Homo sapiens: one gene and its partners. The protein of the gene in region 1 purifies or fractionates together with the protein of each later gene. This does not show direct contact. Each region holds a gene or a part of one and is shown in the gene's direction. Other genes may lie near its edges.

Evidence for each region.
Region 2: the proteins of PECR (region 1) and LCN1 purify together in Homo sapiens (affinity purification with mass spectrometry; 3 studies listed by BioGRID and IntAct, with this or other methods). This does not show direct contact.
Region 3: the proteins of PECR (region 1) and ACY1 purify together in Homo sapiens (affinity purification with mass spectrometry; 3 studies listed by BioGRID and IntAct, with this or other methods). This does not show direct contact.

Annotation. Positions count from the first base shown.
Region 1 is NC_000002.12:216,064,786-216,071,891, reverse strand, and holds part of PECR (peroxisomal trans-2-enoyl-CoA reductase), read left to right. Parts: intron 1-5,373; coding exon 5,374-5,507; intron 5,508-6,414; coding exon 6,415-6,580; intron 6,581-7,106. UniProt on the Homo sapiens protein: Participates in chain elongation of fatty acids. Catalyzes the reduction of trans-2-enoyl-CoAs of varying chain lengths from 6:1 to 16:1, having maximum activity with 10:1 CoA. Has no 2,4-dienoyl-CoA reductase activity.
Region 2 is NC_000009.12:135,517,331-135,524,440, forward strand, and holds the start of LCN1 (lipocalin-1 isoform 1 precursor), read left to right. Parts: upstream 1-4,109; 5' UTR 4,110-4,167; coding exon 4,168-4,257; intron 4,258-4,716; coding exon 4,717-4,847; intron 4,848-5,901; coding exon 5,902-5,972; intron 5,973-6,549; coding exon 6,550-6,660; exon of another isoform or gene 6,661-7,110. UniProt on the Homo sapiens protein: Could play a role in taste reception. Could be necessary for the concentration and delivery of sapid molecules in the gustatory system.
Region 3 is NC_000003.12:51,979,668-51,986,633, forward strand, and holds the start of ACY1 (aminoacylase-1), read left to right. Parts: upstream 1-3,867; 5' UTR 3,868-3,922; intron 3,923-4,379; coding exon of another isoform or gene 4,380-4,397; coding exon 4,398-4,491; intron 4,492-5,539; coding exon 5,540-5,604; intron 5,605-5,693; coding exon 5,694-5,798; intron 5,799-6,184; coding exon 6,185-6,279; intron 6,280-6,587; coding exon 6,588-6,664; intron 6,665-6,747; coding exon 6,748-6,837; intron 6,838-6,937; coding exon 6,938-6,966. Other genes in the region: protein ABHD14A, read left to right, coding at 726-961, 1,169-1,351; ABHD14A-ACY1 readthrough (NMD candidate), read left to right, coding at 4,380-4,491, 5,540-5,604, 5,694-5,798, 6,185-6,279, 6,588-6,664, 6,748-6,837, 6,938-6,966. UniProt on the Homo sapiens protein: Catalyzes the hydrolysis of N-acetylated amino acids to acetate and free amino acids.

The DNA of each region.
Region 1 (7,106 bases):
TTTTGTCAAAGTGGCACCCAAACGGGACTTTCAGGGACAAACAGAGACCTGAAGGGACCTAAAGAGGCCTGCAGGGACAAATAGAGATAAGTAGGGATAAATAGAAATAGAGGTAGAGTTAAATAGAGACAAATAGAGAGTTTTGGGCAAAAGTCATCTTAACTTGCAGGGCGTTACTGTAGCCCCAGGAGTTGTTGATTTTGATTGTGAAGAGGAAATTCCAGTAGTGGTAATGTCACAAGAACTTTGGGTTTTTGAACCAGGAGAATATATTGCACAACTATTGCTTGTTCCCTGTAAGTTGCACCCTTCTCCACGAAGGGAGAAGCGAGGGAATCAAGGATTTGAAAGTACAACTAGGAGAGAGATTTATCTATCACAACCCATAACATTTAATGGACTCACCTGTACAGTACAAATTGAAGGCTTAATGATTTTTTTTCTTTGCTATACTGTTGCACGAGAAGGATGAGCTTCAATTTGCTTTCCATGTGCCTTCTGTTAATCAGAGAGAGCCTGCCTCTCCTTATCAATGAGAAGTTTACCCCGTGGTAATTAACCAAAGAGGCAGAAGCTGAGTTACAGCTTGTGGAGCAGATGCTTTGGCAACGGCATGCCTCCTGGCCACAGCCACAAAAGCCTTTGCTTCTGTTTTGGTAGATTTACTGACGTGGGGATAAGGGTACGCTTGCGTTTTTGCAGGAGATGAACAAACTGTGTGGGTGCCCTCAAGGTGTGTGCGACCACAGAACGGGAGACTAGAGCGACCCATGGATCCCAACCATGGGCCCGGTTCCCCCAGTATGAGCTGAATGCGAAGACGGAATGAACCACCAAGGCTGCACATTTTGCAATTACCTGTCTCAATTAATTCAAAAACAAAAAGGGAGAGATGTTGCAGGCTGAAAGAGTGAGGGTCGTGATCAACTCAGTATACCGCTGGAGGGTATATGAGCAAACAGCAAACTGTTCTCATAAATGCAGAATGTTGGCAAATGACAAACTGCGTCTGCCACCCTTGAAGGAATGCTGAGGGCAGTCACGACCCAGGCGCAAGTGTTTCTTGTGATGAGGCACATCTGAAGCCTGTTAGCAATAATGTGAACCTGTGATCAGTTAAGCAGCTGACCAAATGTTACCTGCTCCTCCCTGCTCTTTCTACCCAATAAATACAAAAGGCCGTAGGAGCTCAAGGTTGCTGCCTTTACTCAGTAGAAGCAGGGAACCCTCTTCTTCTTCCCCTGGCCCCTTCCTTTAAAACAGTTTCTTTTGTTTTAAGTTTTCATTTCTGCGTTCATCCTCCTTCGTTCAGTGTCGTAATGACCGTCTCAAATAGTAAGTAGTAACAGTAGTAACTGTCGTAGTGACGGTCTCAAGTAGTAACCATGGCAGTCTGCCACAGAGGGACATGAAAAAAATAATAAAAGTAGACCAGTTTCACTGGGGAGATGTTGGTCAAAGAGTACAAAGTTTCATTTAGACAGGAGGAATAAGTTCTGATGATCTATTGCACAGCATGATGGCTATAGTTAGTAATGCATTGTGTATTTCAAAATTCCGAGAATAGTGGATTTAGCTCAAAGTGGTTCTTAGCTCAAAGAAATGATAAGAGGTGATAGATACATTAGCCTGATTTCATCATTCCACAATATATTTATATATCAAAATATCACATTTTACCCCATAGATGTATAGTTATTTGTCAGTTAAAAATAAAAATTTAAAAACCTCAGTATTGAAAATTAAACTGTTTTATTTTCATGTGAAGTGTGTCGAGTCATTCGATTAGTGCTTGCCTTCTCATTGTATACCTTATGATATAGAGCAAGCATTTTTTTCTGTACCTTGTTAAATTATTGTACTCCTTTCTATGTTTCGATCAGCTTCCAACATTTTATCCTTTATACTTTCAATGTCATGAAATATTTCCAAAAGTTTCTTTTTTTTTTTTTTTTTTGACAGAGTCTTGCTCTTGTCACCCAGGCTGGGGTGCAATGGCACGATCTCAGCTCACTACAACCTCTGCCTCCTGGGTTCAAGCAATTTTCCTGCCTCAGCCTCCGGAGTAGCTGGGATTACAGGCGCCCACCACCACACCTGGCTAATTTTTGTATTTTTAGTAGAAAAGGGGTTTTGCCATGTTGGTCAAGCTGGTCTCGAACTGCTGACCTTGTGATCCGCCCACCTCGACCTCCCAAAGTGCTGGGATTACAGAAGTGAGCCACCATGCCTGGCCCCAAAAGTGTCTTTAATCTGAAGTTTTTTGTGGGCATCACTTCCTCTGGGATATCTTCATCTTCTTTGTCACAGGCACTTTCCTCATGATGTTAAGTTTGCCTTCAGTAAGATCTTTTGGCTTTCTGTAGTTTCTAGACTGGCAGCAGTGTCACGCATTCCCCTTTTATAATTCCCCTGACATGCATTCTAATTTCGCTTCCAGTGTTACAAATTTTCATTTCTTGGTCTCACTTTTCATGTTTGTTGGCCAGTCCCCCCTTAGATCATGTGTTTTTATAAAATGTCACTTGGGTTTCTTGTTGAAAGACCAGGAGGTGACACAGCTATATTATTTGCTGTCTGAGCTCTTCTGAACTGAAGAAGAGATGCACAGTGGGCATTCACTGATAGACGCTGGAAGAAATGACATGATTAATCACTGATCTTGATGTGCATCTGTTATTTATGATTTGTGGGTTGAAAAGCTAGCAGTAAAGTTTGCATTTTATGCAGTTACAGTTAATATACCATGGTTGTTGAAATTTGAACCATGTTGTTGAGAGACTGGTGTCTTTAAGCTAAGCTAACTGAAATCAGAGCATATTGGAGCAGAGCAAAAGAAGGACCGTCTCTACTTCCATTTCCCCTTCTTAGCCATTGTGCTATTATTCTCAAGGAGAAGGAGGGAATCATTTTATTTCTACATATGTTATAAATCTTACAATATGTTGTTATTATTTTTGCTTTGAACTATACCTTTAAAGAGATCTGAATAGAAACAAGAAAAGTCTTTATATTTACTCACATAATTACTATTTCTGCAACATAGACCTCATCTCTACTAAAAAAAAAAAAAAAAAAAAAAAAAAATTGGCCAGATATGGTGGTGTATGTCTGTGGTCCCAGCTACTCGGGAGGCTGGGGTGGGAGGATCAGTGGATCCTGGAAGGTCAAGGCTGCAGTGTGCCAAGATCGCCACTGCACACCAGCCTAGGCAACAGAGTAAGACCCTGTCTCAAAAACAAACACACGAACCATTTTTAGTTCTCTTTCTTCTTCTGTATATTTTTAGATTTTTATCTGGCATCATTTTCCTTCTACTTGAAGGACTTCCTTTCATCTTTTTTGTAGTGCAGATCACCTTGATGAATTCTTCCAGCTTTCATATGTGTGAAAAAGTCTTTATTTTGCCATCATTTTTGAGAGATATTTTCACTGGGTTAAGATTTCTAGGTTCACCATCTTTTTCATTGCTTTCCATACCGTAAAGATGTTTCAGTGTCTTCTGGCTTGCATTGTTTCTGAAAGAAGTCTTTATCTTTCTTGTTGTATACTTAATGTGTTGTTTTTCTCTGGCTGCTTTTAAGATTTTTCTCTTCATCACTGGTCTATTTAATTATATCATCAGTGTCATTTCTGGTTCCGGTTTTTTTTTTTTTTTTTTTTTTTGATATGGAGTCTTGCTCTGTCACTCAGGCTGGAGTGCAGTGGGGCGATCTCAGCTCCTGTAACATCTGCCTCCCGGGTTCAAGCAATTATCCTGCCTCAGCCTCCTGAGTAGCTGAGATTACAGGCACATGCCACCAGGACTGGCTACTTTTTGTATTTTTAGTAGAGACAGGGTTTCACCATGTTGGTCAGGCTGGTCTCAAACTCCTGACCTCATGATCGGCCCGCCTCAGCCTCCCAAAGTGCTGGGATTACAGGTGTGAGCCACTGCGTCCGGCCTGGGTCTGTTTTTATTAATTGACTTTTCTCCTAATTATGTGCTGCTATTTTCCTGTTCCTTGGCATGCCTGGTAGTTCTTTTTGTTGGATGCCATATACTGAATTTGACCTTGATGGATGTTGGCTATTTTTATATTCTTATAAATATTCTTAGACAGGCGCAAGAGATTGGGACCACCCTGGCCAACATGGTGAAACCCCATCTCTACTAAAAATACAAAAATTAGCCAGGCCTGGTGGTGCACGCCTGTAGTCGCAGCTACTTGGGGGGCTGAGGCAGGAGAATCACTTGAACCCGGGAGGTGGAGGTTGCAGTGAGCTGAGATCATGCCACTGCACCCCAGTCTGGCGACAGAGTGAGACTCCGTCTCAAAAAAAAAAAAGAAAAAGAAAAAATATGTATATATTCTTGAGCTTTGTTCTGGGATACAGTTAGGTCACTTGAAAACAATTTGATACTCTAAAAGAGGCTTGATCTGAGCAGCCTTTAGTCTATGGTGAATTTTGCCTCACTGCAGAAGCCATCTGCTTCTGCATATTTTACCGAATGCCCCGTGAAAGGTTTTTTTCTGGTGGGCACACTAACCATTCCCAGTGCTGTGTGAGTGCCAGGGTTTGATCTCCCTGCCCATTTTTGGTAGTTCTTTCCTCTTTGATTTATTCCCAAGCATCGATTGGTACTCAGGTGAAGATTCCAGAGAGACTCTGCAGATCTCTGGAGTTCTCGCTCTCTGTATATCTTTTCTCCCTATCCCCTGGGCAATCTCACTGCCTTGGCTCCCTAGACTCCCAACTTCATCTCTTCCGCCAGGGAGACTTTGGTCTCTGAATGTGTTCCCCTCCCTTGCTGCAGTGTAGAACCTTTCTCCAGGCAGCAAGCTGGGGCAATCCAAGGGCTCATGTTTGATTTCACTGTCCCAGAGATGACCATCCAGTGCTACTAGATGTCCAGTGCCAGAAAACCATCATTTCATATATTTTGTCCAATTTTTTAGTTATTTCAGGATGGAGGGCAAATTCAGTTTCTACTACTCCATCTTGTCCAGAAGCAAAAATCCTAATTCAGCTTTTTTTTAAGACATAGGAACACGCATGGCCAGGTGCAGTGACTTGTGCCTGTAGTCCCAGAACTTTGGGAGGCCAGGTGGGAGGATTGCTTTAGCCCGGGAGAAGTTCAAGGTTACAGTGAGCTATGATCAAGCCACTGCACTCTAGCCTGAGCAACAGGGTGAGACCTTGACTCTAAAATAAAAAATACTTTAAAAAATGGAACACATGATATATTTTTTCAATATTATTATTGTTGGAATTTGGACAACTCATGAAGGCATATTTATTTGTTCCCTGGCGGTTTACTTTTCAAGGTGTAATGTGGTCATTGCATCCCATGAAGGCATATTTATTTGTTCTCTGGCTGTTTCTCCTCAGGGAGTAATGTGGTCATTGCATCCCGTAAGTTGGAGAGATTGAAGTCTGCGGCAGATGAACTGCAGGCCAACCTACCTCCCACAAAGCAGGCACGAGTCATTCCCATACAATGCAACATCCGGAATGAGGAGGAGGTAATGGAGATATATCTGTATCATTTATTCATTCATTGTAATTTGCAGTAGTGTTTCTTAAACCTGGCTATGCTTCAGGTTCTCCTATTGTAGCTGTCTTAGATGAGGCTCACTAGAAGCAGAGGCTGTGAAAGAGATTCTCATGTTAATGATTTACTGAGCCGGCGAATCCTGGAGAAGGAGAGGAAGGGAGGCAAGAATGTGGTCCAGCTAAAGATGGCCTTTTGTCCTTTAAGTCTTCATTTTTATTTTTATTTTTTTGAGACAAAGTCTTCCTCTGTTGCCCAGGCTGAAAGGCAGTGGCACTATATCGGCTCACTGCAACCTACACCTCCCAGGTTCAAGCAATTCTCCTGACTCAGCCTCCTGAGTAGCTGGGACTATAGGTGCATGCCACCATGCCCAGCTAATTTTTGTATTTTTCATAAAGACGGGTTTCACCGTGTTGGCCAGGCTGGTCTCAAACTTCTGACCTCAGGTGATCTGCCTGCCTCGGCCTCCCGAAGTGCTAGGATTACAGGTGTGAGCCACCGTGCCTTGCCCTTTAAGTCATTTTTTAATGTTCATTTTAATCTGATTTCATCACTGTTTATTCTGGGTTGGTAGCTGTCAAATTAATATATGACAGAGGCCTGCCCTACTCAAGGGTGTTCCAGGCCCTTGGATATATCTTGTCGTCAAAATTACAGTTTTAGCTTTGTGATCTGTGGGTATTGGGTGCTGGTACATTACTCATTGGTGTAGGATTTTTAGTCTTATTCATTGCTGCATGTTCATTCATTGTGGCACTTGGAGTGACTGTTCACTGTGAGAGATTGCAAACTCTGTCTAGAGCAATCAATCAGGCGAGGTAGCAAGTTAGGCTATTAAACTTTTCCTTTTAGTAACTTCTACTGTTCTTCTTTAGGTGAATAATTTGGTCAAATCTACCTTAGATACTTTTGGTAAGATCAATTTCTTGGTGAACAATGGAGGAGGCCAGTTTCTTTCCCCTGCTGAACACATCAGTTCTAAGGGATGGCACGCTGTGCTTGAGACCAACCTGACGGGTACCTTCTACATGTGCAAAGCAGGCAAGTACCATCAGTATCCACAAGTCAACATGTCTTTATTTAGAGATCTCAGGATTCCTATTAGGGACTCAGAAGCCCCATGTCATTAACATTTATTGGCTGGATTTTCTCACTTACAACATAGGAATGTAAATTGGTACATTTCAGTATAGTAATTTGGCAATATTTATAAAATGTGGATATCCTTCAATCTCATCATTTTATTTCTTGGAATTTATTATGAGAAAATTATTAATGATCTGTACATAGATTTAGCTATTAATTTGTTCATAAAATTGGAGAAAACTCTCACACTTACTCTGTTTTTAAGAATGAATCTATTAAATCTTTTAGCAGAACCAATTAATAAATTCAGGGAGAATACCAGAGACAGAGTCTGTATGCTCTCTAACAACTAATTAGCATGCATACATAGTCTTTGGATTAAAGGTCATGTTTCGTGGGTGGTTAGTACTGAACTCCTGAGTTGGGTAACTCAAGAGATTTTGTAAAAACTACCCAAATCTTCTTATGATGAAAAATACAG
Region 2 (7,110 bases), on another chromosome or scaffold:
TTTTCTATATCTCTTGGCTGCTACCCCTTGATTACTGCTTCCTATGAAAATAATTTTTCATAAATAGAATGGAAAGGTAACTCAGCCTTCCCGCTGACGTGAGGTTCAGGTTGGTTTCTCATCATCAGTTGGGGGCTGCGTGACACACGCGGCCGCCGTCACGATGTGCATGTGGTGATGCTGCCACGGGCATCTGCCCCGTAAGCAGCAGCTCCGATCAATTCTCCTTTGCGAGGTGACCACCAAAGGACTGCAGAGCTGGCCGGGGCATTCGTGCGTGTTCATGACCGAGAACTTTTCACACAGAGAGGACTTCCGTCTTGACGAAGGAGCGCAGAGCTGGCCGGGCATTCGTGCATGTTCATGACCGAGAACTTTTCACACAGAGAGAGAAGACTTGTGTCCTGACGAAGGACCACAGAGCTGGCCGGGGCATAAATGCCTGTTCATGACCAAGAACTTTTCACACAGAGAGAGAGGACTTCTGTCCTGACGAAGGAGCGCAGAGCTGGCCGGGGGCATACGTGCGTGCTCATGACCGAGAACTTTTCACAGAGAGAGGACTTCTGTCCTGACATCTTTATTGTATTATAGATGCGTTTAAGGCTGTAAACTTGAAGTTTATATTTCTCTTTATGTAACAGTCTCTTCATTGTCGATTCTAGTTTATTGCCTTGTAGCTACAAAGGGCAGGCTCTGCTGCGTTAGTTCTGTGAAGTTCCCCATATTGCCTGGTATGTGGCCTATTTTAAAACTATTCCATGTGTATTTAATAAGAATTAGCAACTAAAATTTTTCATTGTAACAATTATAACAATATAATTGTTTAGCTTTTGAGGCAGTGTCTTTGTATACTTTACAATGTTGGTGCCAAAGCTCCAACATTGCTGTGAACTTTTAACACCCTCGCCCTCTGTTTCTAATGGAGAAGTTCTGGCGTCTCCCGTTCCGACTGTGTATTTGACCCCTTTGTTCTTCAGTCTGTTTTGGCTTCCTGCATTTTGATGCGGTATGCCTTCACATTCATGAACATTCGTCTTCTTGTGATTGTGCTTTTAATTGTTTTCATGTTGGCGCCCTTTTCATCTATACTGATGAAAAATAAATCATGCTTTTGTCTAACAGGCTTGTTTATGTATTTTGAAAATTTATTATCCCTGCCCACCCCTTTCCACTTCCCTCTCCATGCATCGCTATTCTCCCGTGCTTAACGTGCATCTTTTTGTTCATATGAACCCATGCATGTGGGCACAAGTGTGTTTTGTGTGTGCATTCTTGTTCATATGAACCCATGCGTGTGGGCACAAGTGTGTTTTGTGTGCATTCTTGTTCGTATGAACCCATGCATGTGGGCACAAGTGTGTTTTGTGTGCATTTAGCACTCTTTAAATATGCACTGAAACAGAACCTTTCCCCCACCATCAAAGTCTGCACCATTTGTGTTTGTACAGCCAGCAGGTAGTTTGCCTTGCTGACATCATTTATCCCCCTGACCTCGGTCTCCTATAGACTTGCTAAAATTCTCCCTTTCAAATTTCCTTTGATGGAGACCAGTGAGTGGTAGACGCTCTCAGTTGTTGTTGTTGTTTAATTTTTATTATTATTATTTTTTCGAGATGGAGTCTTGCTCTGTTGCCCAGGCTGGAGTGCAGTGGCATGATCTCAGCTCATTGCAACCTCTGCCTCCCAGGTTCAAGCAATTCTCCTGCCTTTGCCTCCTGAGTAGCTGGGATTACAGGTGCACGCCACCATGCCTGGCTAATTTTTGTATTTTTAGTCAAGATGGGGTTTCACCATGTTGGTCAGGTTGGTCTCAAACTCCTGACCTCACCTTGGCTTCCCAGAGTGCTGGTATTACAGGCATGAGCCACCACACTGGGCCTCAGTTGTTTTTTAATGTCCGAGATGTCTTTATTTTGCCTTCAATATTTTATGAAAGTTGCACTGAGAATAACATTCACAGGTAAATGTGATTTCTCCCGGGTCTGTTAAAGACGTCACTCCACTGTCTTCCGGAAGGCAGCGTTGCTATTGAGAGGTCTGCCATCAGTCCACATCCGCTTTTATGGTATGTAGTGTGGCTCTTCTTTCTGGTCATTTTGACTTTTTTTCTCCTTTCCTGGATGATCTGCATTTCACTGTAATATTCTAGGAGTGGATTTCTCAATTTTGATCATTCCTTGGTAATTTAGATCTGGGGTGTCATCTTCATGTCTTTTCAATTCTGAAGAATTCTGAGCTATTCTGTTGCTTTGTTGCCATTTTAGAAAATGTTTTTCTTTCAGAACTCCTATTCTGTTTATATTGGAACCTCCTGATCTATTCTCCATGTGTGTTAACTTTGTGCATGTGTGTGCATGTGTGTATGTGTGTGAGTGTGCATGTGTGTGTGTATGTGTGCATGTATGTGCATGTATGTATGAATGAATGGTGTGTGCACGCGTGTATGTCTGCGTGTGTATGTGGGTGTGCATGTGTATGGGTTTGTGTGCATTTGTATGTGTGCACATGTGTGTGTGTGCATGTGTGTGTGCGTGTGTGTGCATGTGTGTGTGTATATCTCTGTGTGTTGTGTTTTCAGAGCTGCTGCACTCTAGTTGGTTTCCTCCACTCATTTTATTACTAGCTCCAGGCTGGAGACTGAATCTATCTGTAACACCTCAATTTCTCTTTTGAATTTTTCTGCTTTCATTGATTTTGTTAGTACTATCTTCCATGACACTAAGTCTCTTTTCTACTATGTCAAGTCTGGAATTTAACCTGTCTATTGAGTTTTTTATTCACTTTATTATTCATCTTCAAGATTTGTAATTATTTCTATTTCGTCTCTCCTTATTTCTTATATTCTGGCCAGTTCTAATTTTATACTTTATATATTTTTAAATCACTAGGCATCTTGATCATACTCCTGCAGTTTTAAAGTGTGTGTCAGACTTTCCTTGGCTGGTGTAAGTTCCTGTACCAATTGCTCATTTTTAGCCTGCCTTTCTTAGTGTGGTGTTTCCTTGGGTAATTTGGAACCTGGCCTTTCTAGCTTATTTCAAGGTGAGGATATTGTGTCTCTGCATTTCTGCCTTTCTCTGCCATCTTGTTGTCACTGTCCTCTGTCTAGCAGTGTTTTGTAGCCTCTGCTCCCATCCCGGGTCCCAGGCTTCTGCTCTGCAGTGATGCAGAGCATGTCACAGATAAAGTCATCCTTTCCAAGGACGGCTTGTCTCAGCTTCTGCCCTTGAGGCTGTGTTGATGTCCTCTTGCCTTCCTATGCCCACAGTGCTCCACTAAGTTATACGAAGTTACAGCCCTGGGATGTGTCAAGGAGGGTTTCTCAGCCTTCTTTCTGGAGTCAGGGAAGCCCCTCCCATCACTCCCAGGAGCCGGACCTAGGCCCTCTCTGCCTGCCTTGGGACTTGGAGCTGACAGGCCCCTGCCTCTGCCCCATCACCAGCCTGTGCTTCTCCTCCATTCCTTGTTTTATGTGAGTGTGTGTGCGTTTGTGCATGTATATATGTACACACATGCATACACACACACACACCTGTCTTGGTCTTCTGTCTGTCTGACCTATTGCTGCTCTGTGTGTGGAGCAGAGAGGGTCGTTACTGCACACCTTGCTCAGGACAGTGGACACCGTCTTTAAATGCACACGGGATCGTGTTCACACAGGAGGGTCCCTTTTTTTCCATGATGAATCTGAGGCCAAGTAACCTGCCCAGAGATGCAGGAAGCTCAGCTGAGCCCCAAGCCCACGGCCCTCGGACTCCAACCCCAAACCCCCTTGACAGTGTGCACGTCAGCAAGTGTGGGATGGCTGGGGGGCATCTGTTACGGCTGCACACGTCCCCAGGAGGCCTGCACACCCTTCACTCCCTTCAGTTTCCCTTCAGGTGAAATCTGCAAATCTGCTCCTCTGGACCTGGTCCTGTCCAAGTGATCCTCTGGGATTAACAAGCTGTTATTCACCAGCCTCCAACAATAATGGCAGGTTATCTGCTCCATTGCAGAACTGGCAGTGGTTTACATCCAGGAAGGGATTGGTCAGTCTCCTGTGCCAGGTCCCTGGGGGACCCTGAGCCCAGCGGTATAAAGGGCGGCTGTGGGAGGACTGGTACAGCCTCTCCCAGCCCCAGCAAGCGACCTGTCAGGCGGCCGTGGACTCAGACTCCGGAGATGAAGCCCCTGCTCCTGGCCGTCAGCCTTGGCCTCATTGCTGCCCTGCAGGCCCACCACCTCCTGGCCTCAGACGAGGAGATTCAGGATGTGAGGCCCGGATGGGAAGGCTGGGCTGGAGGGGGCAAGGGGCGAGGCTGAGACTGGATGGAGACCCCATGCCTCCTCCATCCAAGGAGACCCTCGTTTTTGGGTTGGGCATTCAAGCCCTGCCCTGAGGGAATGGTGGGATGGGGCAGCAGGGGTCTGGGCTGGCAGGGTAGGTGGCGCAGGGGTGCAGAGTGGGCAGGGCTGGGAGGGTGGGGGTCTGGCTGACTTCACTTCTTCCCTGGGGATGAGGGCTCCTGTGGTCCTGGCTGGCTTGTGGGGGCTGGAGCCACCTTCAAGTGGGCCTGGCGAGGGTGCTGGGTGTTTTCTGGGTGGGTTAGATTGGGGAACGTTCCCCGTTTCCAGCCCTCGGGGTGCGGTAGAGTCTAGGGGCTGCAGGCCAGGGAAGGGGGAGGCTCTGGAGCAGTCGGCCTGAGCCTGATAGAGAGGGGCCTTCTCCAGGTGTCAGGGACGTGGTATCTGAAGGCCATGACGGTGGACAGGGAGTTCCCTGAGATGAATCTGGAATCGGTGACACCCATGACCCTCACGACCCTGGAAGGGGGCAACCTGGAAGCCAAGGTCACCATGCTGTGAGTGTCTGCCAGCCGGCCGGGCAGCCTGCAACCTGGTCTAGGGCCTTCCCTTTCCCCACCCAGGAGAGCTCTGGTGCTGGGGAGGTGGGCAGACCTGCTGGGAGGCCTCTCTCGGCCCCTCCTGCAATGCTTGAGGGCAAACTGTGCCACTGAGGTGCCTCGGCTGGAGGGGCCCTGAGGGGGCAGAGGCCCCGGATCAGACCCTGTGGGCTACCAGTGGCAGCCCTGGGTACCGCCCACTTCCTCCTCCGACTAGGGAATGTCTGGTGACGTGCAGGCCCCTTTGGGAAAAGGTGTTTACCCCCGACCAGAGTCAGAGCCAGTCCTGGCAGTAAATTTCTGCTTTGGAGAAGTGCAGGGATGGGGCTTGCAGAATGACCAAGAGGGGGCATAGGAGAAGACACCATGGAGAAGACCCCCTTGAAATCCCTGTGTAGCGCTCACCTGTGCGGCTCTCACCTGGGCTGCTTCCACCCGCGTGGCTCACATCTGTGACTTCCCACCTGTGTGATTTCACCCGCATGGCTCCCTCCTGAGTGGCATGCAGTGCCTGTGCTCCGGTCCTGGGGGCTGAATCTCAGGAAGTCACTGACCCTGGCAATGACCCCGATTTTTTTTTCCCCCAAAGCCCCTCACTGAACCTTTCCCTCTCTGGGCCAGATGATGATGGATATGGGGCTTGTGCCTGAATGTCTCTAAAAGGAAGAATGCAGCTGGCGGGATGAGGCTCAGGCCCACGCCACAGACGCTGCCTGCAAACCAGGCAGCCTGGGTGCCTCTGGCAGGAAATGTGTTGGGGGCGGGGGGTTTGGGAAGGCAGCCACCAGGAGGAGCGGTGCAGAGCTCCTGGCCATCTCGGGAGACCCCGGGAACTGCCGCATGGGACCCGGAGGGGCCGCTGGTGCCTGGGTCTGAGATGCAGAGAAGCACCCTCCTCCATGGGCCTGTGGCAGACTCGGGGCCACATTTGCAGGGCATTGCAGCATGGTTGCTCCAGGGCCGGGGGAGGCACAGGCCAGGGCCGCTTTGCCAGGGGGCTTCTGTTTTCCAGGATAAGTGGCCGGTGCCAGGAGGTGAAGGCCGTCCTGGAGAAAACTGACGAGCCGGGAAAATACACGGCCGGTGAGTCCCGGGGCCTGAGCCAGAGCCTGAGCTTGAACACACGCTGGATGTGCGGGGGCAGCCAGTGCCTTTTTGGGGTGGCCTTTTGGCCTGGGAAGCCTTTTGCTGCCTTCTGACTCCACTAAAAGCCCACTCTCTTCTCCCACTGGTCAATTTGCATTAGAGACTTGAACACCTGACCCCAAACACCAGGTGTGGCAGGTTTGTCCCGGGGCGGACCCTCTGGGCTTGCCCTGTAGCCCTGGCTGTGGCTCTGGCAGGGCCAGGAGCAGAGTCGTATTTGGCTGCGGGGGGCTGTACCCCAACTCCCACCTCCGCAGACCTCATACCCGGAGGAACCCCCCGTGACTCACTGGTTTGGGATGTGGCCGCCTCTTGGGTACATCAGGTTCCTGGGAAGTGGGGGTCCCATGGCCTGGGGCTCAGGCCTGGTGGGGAACCTGGGTCAGGGAGCTCTGGGAGGCTGGGAGGGTGCAGGAGCTGCGGGGCTTGCTGGGCCTGGCAACGCACGCTGTCCCGGGATCCTCTCTGAAGTCCCTGGTGGCTAATTCAGGAATGTGCTGCTGTCTTTCTGCAGACGGGGGCAAGCACGTGGCATACATCATCAGGTCGCACGTGAAGGACCACTACATCTTTTACTGTGAGGGCGAGCTGCACGGGAAGCCGGTCCGAGGGGTGAAGCTCGTGGGTGGGTCCCGCACCCTCACCCTGCAACCCATGCCTCCACCTGCCCTCCCTCCTCCCTCGGCCTCCTGCACCCTCTTCCCCATGGGAGAAGCCACTGGGACCCAGGAACCCACTGCAGTTTTCTTAGGATGAGTTTTCCTGATAAAGGCCTCAATTCCCACCCCTGGAGTTCAGGATTTGGGATGCCCCGGCCTCGGTATCTGCAGCAGAGGCAGGAAGGAGCCACGGCTGCAGGCACAGGGGTTCAAAGGTCACACATGTCCCAGAGTGGGCCAGGCCCTCCCCCGGAGCAGCTCCCTGCAGTGTCATCCTTGAGCGCGTTCCTGTGGGGTGTCCAGCAGGAGAGAGGAACAGGGATGTGAGCAGAAGTCTGCATGGAAAGAACGTTCCAGCTCCCGGGGTTGAATTCCGGACGCGGTGCCTCCCACAGATGGTGACTCATCAGTGCTGT
Region 3 (6,966 bases), on another chromosome or scaffold:
AGAGACAGGGTTTCACCATGTTGGTCAGGCTGGTCTCAAACTCCTGACCTCATGATCCGCCACCTCGGCCTCCCAAAGTGCTGGGATTACAGGCATGAGCCACCGCGCCCAGCTGCCAGGACATGCATTTTTAAATTTAGATAACTACTATCTCACCCTCCAAAAACACTATATGGATTTATCTTCCCATCTGTCATGTATGAAAGTGCCCATTTCCCCATGTCTCCCCCAACACTGGGTATTATTTATTTTTTATTTTATTTTATTTTTTTTTTAGACAGAGTCTCGCAGTCGCCCAGGCTAGAGTGCAGTGGCATGATCTCGGCTCACTGCAGGCTCCGCCCCCCGGGGTTCATGCCATTCTCCTGCCTCAGCCTCCTGCGTAGCTGGGACTACAGGTGCCCGCCACCTCGCCTGGCTAATTTTTTGTATTTTTAGTAGAGACGGAGTTTCACCGTGTTAGCCAGGATGGTCTCGATCTCCTAACCTCGTGATCTGCCCGCCTCGGCCTCCCAAAGTGCTGGGATTACAGGCGTGAGCCACCACTCTCGGCCAAGATATGCTTTTCTAACAGGCATATTACATTACCAGAAAATAGCTTCTGGGCAGTTTTAGGTAGTGTGTGCCAGTGCCAGTGGTCCCCAACTTTTTCCCCCACTGTGGTGGGCAGGAAGTCCTGTGCCCCTTCCCAGTGCCCCTCAGCTGGTACCTGCTGCTGTTCCTAGGTTTTGGGAACTCGGCACCTTCAAAGGAGGCAAGCACAGAGGCAGGGCGGGCAGCGCTGCTGGAGCGGGCGCTGCGGGACCTGGAGGTACAGAATGCCGTGTTGGTGAGCCCCTCGCTGAGTGGCCACTATGCCCTGCCCTTCCTGATGCGAGGCCACCACCAGCTACATGGATTTGTGCCCATCGCACCCACCTCCACCCAGAACTACACCCAGGAGCAATTCTGGGCTGTGAAGGTACTGGGAGAAGGATCTCAAAGGTCCTGGCACCCTGTCTGTGGCTTGGGGGGGTTCAGGACTCAAGTCTTACTTGGAGGGACATGGCCTTATCCCTGACCTTGGATGGAAGAGTTGGATGGTGTTGGGGAAGGCTTCCTAGGAAGTGGCTTGGGGGTCAGAAACTCATCAGGCCCCAAGATCACAGCCCCCTGCCTTGCCCTGCAGACTCCAACCCTTATCCTGTATGGAGAGCTGGACCACATCCTGGCTCGAGAGTCACTGCGGCAGCTCCGCCACCTGCCCAACCACTCTGTGGTGAAGCTACGCAATGCAGGCCATGCCTGTTACCTCCACAAGCCGCAAGACTTCCACCTTGTCCTGCTTGCCTTCCTTGACCATCTACCTTGAACTAACCCACTCCCAGCTCCCAGCCTGGCATGAGCTTGGACAGTCTGGACCGCCACCCTCCCTGAACCAGGGAGACAGCCTCTGGGATTGGAGGCCAGAGGCCAGGGTCAGACCCAGCCAGGACTCCTCATTTCATCTCACAGACACAATAAAAAAGCATATTTGTCCTGCCTGGGAAGTGACAGGTTCCGTTTCCTGGTGTGCTGTGGGAAAGACGGGAGTGGGAGGCAAGTCTGGGACTACTTTGGGCCTGGGAGCTGGAGGGGATGTCCAGCAGTCTGAGAAGGCTAAGAATGCGCCACTTCCTAAGTGCCTGGCCTCACCACTCTGTGCCTGAGTTTCCTTATCTGTAAAACGGGTATGATGGCAACACCTAGGTTGGAGGGTGGTTATAGGACTGAATGAGTCTGGATAACTGAGTACTTGGCCACATAAGGCTGGGGAATTGCTGGTGGGAGGCGGGGTGTATTACTGCTGCTGCATGACCACAGGGATTGGTGGGAAATCCAGGGTCTGGACAGCCAAGCCAAGGAAGTCAGGAACCTAGAGGGTATGGGGAACGCGATTTAACAATTAGCCAGCATTGGCCGGGCGCAGTGGCTCACACCTGTAATCCCAGCACTTTGGGAGGCCGAGGCAGGCGGATCACGAGGTCAGGAGATCGAGACCATCCTGACTAACACGGTGAAAACCCGTCTCTACTAAAAATACAAAAAATTAGCCGAGCGTGGTGGCGGGTGACTTTAGTCCCAGCTACTCAGTAGGCTGAGGCAGGAGAATGGTGTGAACCCGGGAGGCGGAGCTTGCAGTGAGCCAAGACCGAGATCACACCACTGCACTCCACCCTGGGTGACAAAGCGAGTGAGACTCCGTCTCAAAAAAAAAAAAAAAAAAAAAAAAAAAAAAAAAAAAAAAAACCAGCATTAGCTGGGCACTGTGGCTCACATCTGTAATCCCAGCACCTTGGGAGGCCAAGGCGGGTGGATCACCTGAGGTCAGGAGTTCAAGACCACCCTGGCCAACATGACAAACCCTGTCTCTACTAAAAATACAAAAATTAGCCCAGCGTGGTGGCACGCACCTGTAATCCCAGCTACTCTGGAGGCTGAGGCAGGAGAATCACTTGAACCCAGGAGGCGGAGTTTTCAGCGAGCCGAGAAGGAGCCACTGCACTCCAGCCTGGGCAGCAGAGTGAGACTCCATCTCAAAAAAATAAATAGCTAAATAATTAGCCAGCATTGTTATGAGTTAAAGTCTATTTGCCCGCATGAATAAATAGGTAAATAATTAGCCAGCATTGTTGTGAGTTAAAATCTATTTGCCCGCATGACAGAGTGAGACTCTGTATCAAAAAAATAACTAAATAAAGAATTATCCAGCATTGTTATGAGTTAAAGTCCATTTGCCCCCATGTTATGTGTGAGCAGCCAAGACTTAAACCTCAGGAAAGGTGGGACAGAACCCTTCCCACAGCGTGCCTCCTTGGCCTAGAGATTGAAGTCTTTGTCCCTCACCCTTCCCCAAGCTGACTCAGCCCCTGGAGCAGAGGGCAGACCTGGCTGGGAGTACAAAGGGCAGCTGGGGCACAAGTGGGCAACTGCAGCTGTGGCCTGCAGGGGGCCAGTGGTACACCTGTGCCTGTTTAGCCTCCCCCTCTGGTGGCTGCAGAAGAGCCAGTTTCCTCACACTGTCCATCCAGGGTCACAATTACATCCATTCACAGTGACTTCATCACACCCACCCACCATCTCACACTGTCACATACACAATCATATCCACTGATAGACTGCACACGCAGTGGCACGCTTAAACCGTCACACGTGCTCTTGTCCATGCATTCATTCCCATTCTAGGCACTGTCCGGGCTCGGCACGGCCCCGGGCAGAACCTTGCAGGAAGTGGAGCTCACAGCCTCCTGGAGTTCAGTGTGGGCAGACAGACATTGGCCAATAACTTCAGTACAAGTGGAGCTGAGGCGTCAGGGAGGACCTCCCCGAGGGGCTGAGGCCTGCAGTGGGGAGCCGTTGGAGACTTGCCGAGGAGGGCGAGGGCGCAGGCCCAGGGCTTTGCAGCTCTGCATCTTGAGAGCCTCGGGGCGGCCCCCTTTCCTCCCGCCCTATCCGGGGGCTGAAGGAGGAGGCGCCCTTAGGGGACGGGACCGTCCTGAGCTCCCGGCGCATACCTGGGGGCAGGAGTGGCAGGCGTGTCGTGTGGGGCGGGGCGAGCCTGTCAGAGCAGGGCCAGCCCGGAGCTCGCAACTCGCGGGGCGGCGCTGGCCGCGGCGGCCGCTGCCCGGGGACGGGATCCGGATCTAATCCTCCAGTAATCTCGCTGAGGCCCGAACCAGAGGCGGGCGGGGACATCCGCGCCGACGCGGCCGCTGGCGCCGGGACGGCCCTCACTGACGGTCTTCGGTCTCCGCCCCGACATCCGGCCTCGGCCACGTGGTGGGCGGACCGGGGCGGTCCTGAGCCTGCGACCTCGCAGGCGACCTCGCTGGACCCTAAGTCCAGGCCACAGTCAGGGAAGGGCGCTGAGAGGCGAGCGTGAGCCCAGCGACAGGAGAGTGAGGTGGGGGCCCTGGGGAGGGATAGAGGGACTGGGGCTCCGTGGCTTGAAAGCCGGGCAACTGGGAGGCGTTGGGGTTTTTCTTGTTTGTTTTTTGTTTTTGTTTTTGCCTTTTTTTTTTTTTAGGAGGGCGGGGGGAGTACAAGTCTGGGTTCAAACCTTGCTCAGCTACTCTATGAGCTGTCCTTGAACCTCTCTGAGCCTCTCAGCTTTCTCCTCTGTAAAGTGGGCATTCTGAGCACAAACTTCATGGGGCTCTTTTGGGGATTAAATAAGGAAATGTGCTGGAAGCAGACAGCCCAGCGCCTGAAACAGAATGGGTGCTCCTTAATGGGGGCTCCGAAACACGGTATCCTACCCCTGTGGGAAGTCCGGGAGCCGCCGTGGGGACAGGCTGTGTGCAGGAGCTCACCATTTCCAGGGTCTTGGAGGGGTAGTTAGCCATTCACTTTGCCCCCAGCTCACCACGCGCAGCGCCATGACCAGCAAGGGTCCCGAGGAGGAGCACCCATCGGTGACGCTCTTCCGCCAGTACCTGCGTATCCGCACTGTCCAGCCCAAGCCTGACTATGGTGAGAAGACGGTGGTTCCAGAGCCTGTGACGGGGCCTAAGGGACGGGGACTGTGCTCTAAACCAGCCTCCAACCCCTGTCACCCAGCTGAGCCCCACTCTGCTGTCCCAAATGGCTCCCCAACCCCTCCAGCCATTCCCCAAGTAAATAGACTGAGGCAGCCCCTCCAGGTTAGGGAGGAACCCTTTCCCCAGAGACTCTGCTGCTGACCAAGGTTACTCCTGGCAGCTGGTTAAAGAAAAACTTCACCTCACTCTCCAGGGCAGGAGTGGTGGGGGAAGCCTGAGGCAGCCACAGGGAAAGGAGAGGCCCTCCAGAAGCCCACTGGGGCTGGACAAAGGCCACAGCCCTTAGGGAGTCAAGCTTGGTGGCTAGGGCCTGGGAGGTGGCTCCTGCCTGTTATCCCAGCACTTCAGGAGGTTGAGGCTGGCAGATTGCTTGGGCCCAGGAGTTCAAGACTAGCTTGAGCAACATGGCAAGACTCTGTCTCTACAGAAAAAATACAAAAATTAGTCAGGAATGGTGGCACACCTGTAGTCCCAGCTACTCCAGAGGTTGAGGTGGGAGGATCGCTTGAGCCTGGGAGGTTGAGGCTGCAGTGAGCCGAGATCGCACCACTTCACTCCTGCCTTGGTGACAGAGTGAGACCCTGTCTCAAAAAAAAAAAAAAAAAAAGGAAAAGAAAAAAAAAAAACTTAGTGGCTGGGAATTGTGTACATGGGTCCAAATTCCTCCTCTGTGATTAATCAGCTGAGAGATGGTGGGTGAATCTCTTCATGTCTCTGTGCCATAGTTTCCCATATTTAAGGAAGATAACACCTTCCTCCAACCCTGTGTCCAGACATCCCCCTGGACTTCCAGAAAGGGTCACTGAGTAGCCAAAAATATCTTCTTTCTTGGGGATGGAAATGCAAGCATCTCTGAGGGATATGGAGTGTGTCGGGGAGGCAGCAGCCCATTTCTGGGTATGCTCCACTCTCCGGGCTGCCTGGGCTGGTGGGAAGCTGTGGGTAGGCAGAAGCAGCCCCAAGACACTCTGTGCCTCCAGGAGCTGCTGTGGCTTTCTTTGAGGAGACAGCCCGCCAGCTGGGCCTGGGCTGTCAGAAAGTAGAGGTGAGCCTGGGGCCCTAAGCGGGGAAGGGAGGTGGGCCTGGGCACTTCCTCACCCTGCTCAGACCACCTACCCTCCTGACCATCTCCAGGTGGCACCTGGCTATGTGGTGACCGTGTTGACCTGGCCAGGCACCAACCCTACACTCTCCTCCATCTTGCTCAACTCCCACACGGATGTGGTGCCTGTCTTCAAGGTGTGTAAGGGGCTGGGGAGGTGGGCAGTGCAGGCCTTGGGGACAGACATGATGCAGACCCCAGGATTCAACCTCAAGTTGCTCATGGTCCTGGCCCCAGTCCTGACACTAACTCTCAACATCCTTATGACATTACACCACTCAAGCAGCCTTCATCCAGCAGCAAGTTCTGGGCCAGAGTGGGGTGGGGACTGGGGGGTGGGAAGCAGGAGACAGCAATGGGGGATGGCAATCAGCTGCCTTCTTCAGCCCCCGTCTTTCCTCTCCCACCACTCCACCTGTCACTCCAACCCTATGGTGGGCTCCTAGGGCAGGGCCACTGTTGACCAGAGTGGATTAATGGCTAAATTTGGGGTTTGGGCCCCTCTTCCCATCCCTGCCCCCAGGAACATTGGAGTCACGACCCCTTTGAGGCCTTCAAGGATTCTGAGGGCTACATCTATGCCAGGGGTGCCCAGGACATGAAGTGCGTCAGCATCCAGTGAGTGTCCTCCATTCCTACTCCTCCACAATGTCCCCACTGGTCCAGTGGATTGAAGCAGGACCTGAGGGGGTGATTGGAGAAACTCAAGGCCAAGGAACACCGTGACCTCTTGGACAGGAACTACTGCCATGACCATTGCATGGATAGGGAGATTCAGACCAGAGAGGGGCAGGGACTTTCTGGAGTCCCTATCAGGGTGTGGCAGGGTAAAGTCCAGGACACAGGACTCCAGCCTGCTGGCCCTGCCTGTGGGGCCAGCCTGCGCATCTGGTGGCTCCCCCAGCACCTGGCTTATGCCCCCTCAGGTACCTGGAAGCTGTGAGGAGGCTGAAGGTGGAGGGCCACCGGTTCCCCAGAACCATCCACATGACCTTTGTGCCTGGTAGGAGTGGCTCAGATACCTTTGGGAAAGGGGAGGGTGGGGCGGGGCAGCCTCCTCATCTCACGTCCCTGCTGCTTTTACAGATGAGGAGGTTGGGGGTCACCAAGGCATGGAGCTGTTCGTGCAGCGGCCTGAGTTCCACGCCCTGAGGGCAGGCTTTGCCCTGGATGAGGGTGAGCAGGTTGGCAAGCCAATGAGCAGCCAGGCAGGGAGTAGGAGGCTGCTAGTGGGGACTGAGCTGCTCCACCCTCTGAACCCCCTTTCCCTCCTCAGGCATAGCCAATCCCACTGATGCCTTCACT